Regions from separate parts of the Homo sapiens genome. Here region 1 is linked to region 2. Evidence: fine-mapped expression QTL. Tissue or cell type: blood mononuclear cells. Region 2 holds a variant in brackets; the other region holds the start of a gene. All regions are shown on one strand. Distances are from middle to middle.

Region 1 (2,914 bases), 26 kb before region 2:
GTTTTAAGGGAGAAGAGAGATTTTTTTTTTTCAAGACACTTGCTTGAGCTAGATCCCCAGGAGTATTTTTAACACTCCTCTGTAATTAGGGAAACATCAGTATGTCTGTATTGATACATATACACACATATATAATATGTATATATGTAAGACTATGAACAGTCCTAAATTTATACTTTGGGCTGATAACTGTGGTTTTCAGGAAAAAAAAAAATTTTAAACGGGTGCAAAGTCTCCCCAACTGGTCTAAGTGAGAAATCATTTGGCATTACCTCTCCCTTATCCCCTACCTGCTAATTACAATTTTTCAAATATAGTTATCATTAAGTGCAAACTACCATAATCTTGGCTTATCTTCATGGCAAACTTCAATTAGAAATTTAGAAAATGGGGAGAAAGAGTAAACAAGGTTAAGAGAGTGGGTTCTCAGATAGAATTGGGTACAAATTTGGGCTCCAACACTTAGGTATATGTGGCCTTGTGTAACCACCTAGGTTACACAACAGGTGTAGGTTAACCATCAGCTGCCTTATCTCATTAGGTCCTTATGAGGATTTAGTGAGCTATGCACCTGAAGTCCTCAGCTGTAGCCAGACAGCAAGTGTTCAAAGATGTTAGTCATTGTTTTTGTTTATTGTTTTATCATTGTGCAGGGTCACATAGCTAAGGGGAATTTCAAATCCAAGTCCATCCTACTTCAAACTCCTTTGTGCTCCTAAGCTGTACAGTATAGTCACCTTGGAGAGTAGGTGATTGGCCCCAAACTACTTCAGGGACTGCAGGTCGTGGCCAGCCAGTCCTGTATCAGACCTCGTCCTTGCCAGATGCCTAGTGCCCCAGATTCCCTCAAATCTCAGGCCAGATCACCTCCCACCTGGTAAGATTCCTCCACCTTCACCCGAGCAAAACTACACTTGGTTTGGGTTCCCGGGTACCTTCAGTCTGCAGGGACAGGGGCTGCAGAGTGTACTCCCCAAGTCTGCCTCTGCTGTCGGCCTCCCAGCTGAGTAGGCAAAACATTCCTTTACAGAGCAATGTGTTCATGGATAAACTTGTCTCTAGTGCAGCTCTCTGTCAGAGCACAGAACATGAGGCCAAAGCACTGCCCTTCCTAGGGAGTCCCGGTTCTCGACTTCCCCAGAATGGAAGTTTGATTTTTCCGTTGGCCCATTTCTCAGATGGAAAAACAGATTCAGTAAGGTGCCAACGCTTTGCTGAGGACTACCCTGGAGGCTACCGTTTTGTGAAGGGGTAGACATTGAGACTGGAGTCAGATACGCATTCTGGCTTATCTCCTGACTTACTGAGTGAACTTGAGCAGGTCCCTTTCGCCCATGGGCGTCGGTTTCTTCATCTGCACCAAGGAGACGGAAAACTGGATTACGTGTCGCTAAGGCCCCGGGTTCTCAGAGGAAAGCTCACCCCTGCAGGGCCGCCTTGCCCCGCGCGCTTGGGGCCAGCTGCACGACAAGCCCCAGCATGCTGGGGAGGCGGGGCTCAGTGACGGACAGGGAGCTCTGCGAATTGGCGCCCGGCAAGGGGTGCTCAACGGCGCGTGCGCAGAGGGAGGCAGGCGGGTGGGCTGCCGGCGGTGGACTCGTCGGAGCCGCGGGCGGTCAGGTAGGGGGCGGGAAGGAGGGTTGGGGACTGGGGACCGCGGCCGGAGTCGTGGGCCGTGGCTCAGCGGCCAGGCGGGGGAACGTGCCGGCGTGCAGCGGCCGCGCCCGAATGGCAGGGTGTGGGGACCGGATCTGGGGGGGGCAGGACTAGGGTGGGGGTGGGGCTGCGAGGGGCAGGCTCGGGAGGGATTCGTGGGGCTGAGGAGATCCGAGGAGATGCAGCTGGGGGAGGGGAGCGAGGGGCTCTGAAGAGATTTGCGGTTGCAGCATCTCGGGAGGTATGAGGTAATGTCGGGGCCCTGAGGAGGAACGGGGTGTAGCATGTGGGAGATGGGAGGGAATCAGGGCCCTGGAGGGACCTGGGTGCAGAATTTCAGAAATATGAAGGAACTGGGGGGCCCCGATGAGATTTGAGGAAATCTGGGGGCGCTAGGCATCTGGCAAGGACAGGGTCTGAGATGATAGGAGCAAGGTCTAGGGCGATCCTAAGTGCTATTGAGAAAGGGTTTTCGGAGTGGGCTGAGGGTGAGATTGAGGGGGTGGGGTGAGTTCTTGAGGGACTCTATCTTGTTAGCAGAAAGAAGGGAGCTGGCTGAGGTGTGAAGGCAGCACATGACATTCAGTGCATAAGAGGAAGGAGCAGGGTATGAGGGCAGCACAGTGCCCGATGGAATGCAGGAGATGGGGGCTCAGATTGAGGGAGAGCAGAAATCTGGGGTGAGGAATTGGGGCGTTGAACTGAGGTGCGGGGCTGAGTGTGGCAGAGATTTGGAAATAGGGATTAAACGATCTGAGTCCGAGGGATTTGGGGCATATGAGTGAGGAATTGACGAGGGTTGCAATATACAGCCCCAAAGATTGGAATTTGGAATTGTAAGAGGGTTGGGGACAGGGTTTGGAGAGGATTGAATCGTGGGGTGGAGATGTCCTAACTGGGCTATAAAATCAAAGGACCCTGAGTAGATTTGTGGATTGGTGTCTTGGGCTGCTAAAGAGATTTTCCTTAAATCGCTGCATGGGAGACAGAGGGAGTTCAGGGGACCCAAGGACCTAAAAGTAATGTATGAAACTGGATGAGTATATGAAGATGAGCAGAGTTCAGGTGCTGAGGAACAAAGTGATAAATCTTCAGTTCAGATAATCCTGAAGGAGTGTGGTAATCCCTGTGAAGGGCAGAATCTTCTTCATTTATTAAACAAAGATCCGTTATCATGAGGCAGGTATGGTATTGCCACTAACTCCATTCTGACCACCGGTCCCCCGGCCCACTGAAAGTGGTAGGCTTTGGGGAAGAA
Region 2 (2,914 bases):
CAGCTACATACCAAACTGTATTTTTCATGTCTTACCTTCTTTTTGATCACCAGATTGGTGTATACCCAGCTGCCCATTTTATATTGCCAGTTGTATATACCTTAGGAATCTTAGACTCAGTATATTCAAAACTGAACTTGGCTCTACCATACCTGCTGCTCCTTTTTTATTTCACCTAAGGAACTCCAGCAGTCACTCAGGCCCTTAAGTCAGAAAGCTTGGCACCATGTCTAATCATTTTCCTCACCTTTCACCTTCTACTGTCCCATCATGAAGTTCTCATCATTCTAGCCACTTAATATTTTTCACATACATTAATTTTTTTTCTGAATCCTCATGGCTGCTAAATTTTAAGCTATTATTTTTCTCCTTGAAACACTACTACAACTCCCTAACTGATCCTCCTAACTCTAATCTAGCATCTCACATATACTTCCTCCCATCCCAAGTCAAGCCCTATCCCACACTAGCCAGAGTCAAATTCTAAAATGCAAATGCTAATGATAATATACAAAACCTTTAAATGACCTTTAAGTGCTCCTAGCAAAGGTACAACTTTCTTAACATGGTCTATACATCCCAGTGGGATTTGATTCCTGTCCATCTATCTTTCTAGGTTTATCTTACCACCACTTCCATCCCCTCTAGAGCTTTGCTCCATCCACAATTTCTTTTTTCTTATCTCAGGGACATTTTTGTACATGCTTTTCTTGCATCTTGGAACATTTACCTTCTCCATACCCACCTGTGTTGGCCTAAATCTTACCTTCTTCAAGTGTTCTGGAATGCCCTTTTGGATCCACCTTAACTGTTTTGAGCCAGGTGTTCATGCCACACTTTATATTTCTCCCTCTAGCATTTACATATTTCATGGTGATTTTTCTCATTAAATATCTTTTTCCAAGACTAAAATGAGCTCTCTGAAGGCAAGGCAATATTTAATTTACTGCTGCATCCATAGCATCTAGCACAGTACCTGAAACATAGTAGGCACTATAATTGTTGCTGAATAAAACCAGAGGTCAGCTTAGCTCATATGTTGACATATGTGAGCACTCTGGGTCACAATTAGCATCAGCTGGTTATGCCACCTCCTGCTTCTCCTAGTACCTGCATCCCTGAATCATTAAGTCTAGCTGCAATAGAAAGTGGGGTATGGTTGAAAGGTGGGAGGAGTGGTTCCCTCTGATTTGCTTTTCCTTAGAGAATCTTCTCAACTGTAAAATAATTGAAAGTTGCGTTCCTTTCTAGACTCAACCCGAACTTTGTTTTGGTGCAATGTCACCATTGGAAGAGAAGGCTCAAAAAT[A/T]TACCTTTCATTGTGTGTTATATGAAATATATCTCAATAAAGCTGTTACGAACGTAAAAATGTGACCTTGAGCAAGTGAGTTTCCACGTTAGGAAATGGAGATAATAAATGCCCAGCATACCTCCTGGCATGTAATGAATTCTCAGTACATGTCATGTGGACTTGGGAGTCAGACAGTCCTGAGATGGAATCCTGTCTCTGCCTATTAGCAGCCATGTGACCTTTGGACACATGGCCTTTTGAATTGCCACTCAACACACTTCCTTGGATGGGGGAAGAAAGAGAGAGTACTAATCCTGTTTGAGTCCTAATATTATTAACTAATGGTTCTCTTTGGGCAATTATTTTTCTTCTCCATGGCACTCCATTTCCACCATCTATATTTGTTAAATTAAGGATCTTTCTAGTTGTAAACTTCAATGATTCTGGTGCCCCATACCCCGGAGACTTATTGAATCAAGATCTCCAAAAGGAGCCTTCTTTCTGGGCATCTGTGGAGTAGGAGGGAACAGCAAGGAAGACCCTAAAGACAAAGGACCCTAAAGAGGAAAGCCTGGGGCCTAGGGCTGGTACATCAGATGAAGACAACTAAGGCCAGCTCCTACCCAATGTATCAATGGTGAAGTTGATCTCTAAGGCCCGTCTCAGAGCTGGCACTCTGACTCAGAGCCAAGGGGTTGCTAGGAAACAAGGGTCTAGAGCCTGCTGGTCAGCATCATGCAGGCTTACATCCTGCCGATCAATCTCCCTCTTTTTTCGCTCTTCCTGACTAAGTACTTCTAATTGTTGCAGGGAGAAGAGAAATGCCACACAAAGAGAACTTTGGGAGTGCCCACTTTGGCTAAGTAATAGTAAAATGTAAATGGTAAGAGAATCGGAGCATGAAAAGACAGAAGAAAGAGAAGGCATGAGAGAATACCATTTGCCAACTCTGTGCCTTTGGGTTGTATATCTTACCCCTCACTCCCAAATCTCAGTTTACTTCCATAAAGATACCAATTTTAGGAAGTTGTAGGGATTAAATGAAATTGTGCATGTGAAATGCCCAGCATATCTCCTGGCATGTAGTGAATTCTCAGTACATGGCATAAGGACTTGGAAGTCAGACAGCCCTAGGATGGAATCCTGGCTCTACCTTTTATTAGCCATGTAACCTTGAGCAGATAAGTTTTCACATTAGGAAGATGGAAATAATAATTTGGACCTCACAGGGTTGTTATGAAGACAATATGAGATCATGTGATTAACTAACTCATAATAGGAACTCAACACATGTAAATCATTGTTGCCCTTTCCTCTGTCACCTTCTCTTCCAACACACATATACGCACATATATACATTCTTCTAGAACAATATAAGCTTGGTGTTCAGCTGTGCAAACATGCTCCCATGTGCCCTACTGCTGAGCTCCAGGCTGTGCTATCTGACATTCTCACCTTCTATTCCCACCTCCAGGTTTAGGAAAAGCTCAAATTCAAAAGCTGACAGATTAGCCAGGGAGAAACAGCCATGACATAGGAAGTCTGGCAGGAAGAAGACATATATCTTAGGCTGCTGTAGTCAGGACCAGAAAAGGCTGTATCATTATGCCTTTTGCTTGAGAA

Evidence for each region. PIP is the estimated chance that this variant, and not a neighbour inherited with it, causes the effect. A credible set is the group of variants that fine-mapping cannot tell apart.
Region 1: it holds the start of TRIM32, and the variant in region 2 is the best candidate, but not a certain one, in a credible set for the expression of TRIM32 in blood mononuclear cells (TOPMed, PIP 0.88).

What each region holds. Positions count from the first base shown.
Region 1 is chr9:116,685,762-116,688,675 of GRCh38, forward strand. TRIM32 (tripartite motif containing 32) reads left to right here and starts at 1,544. Exons shown (of 2, transcript NM_012210.4): 1 at 1,544-1,620. All of the region lies in intron 16 of ASTN2 (astrotactin 2), which reads right to left. RefSeq lists enhancers at 1,211-1,530, 1,971-2,020 and a silencer at 1,601-1,800.
Region 2 is chr9:116,711,484-116,714,397 of GRCh38, forward strand. All of the region lies in intron 16 of ASTN2 (astrotactin 2), which reads right to left. Among named protein-coding and RNA genes, the nearest start is that of TRIM32, 26 kb to the left of the region's middle. The variant A/T (reference allele first, on the strand shown) is at 1,310.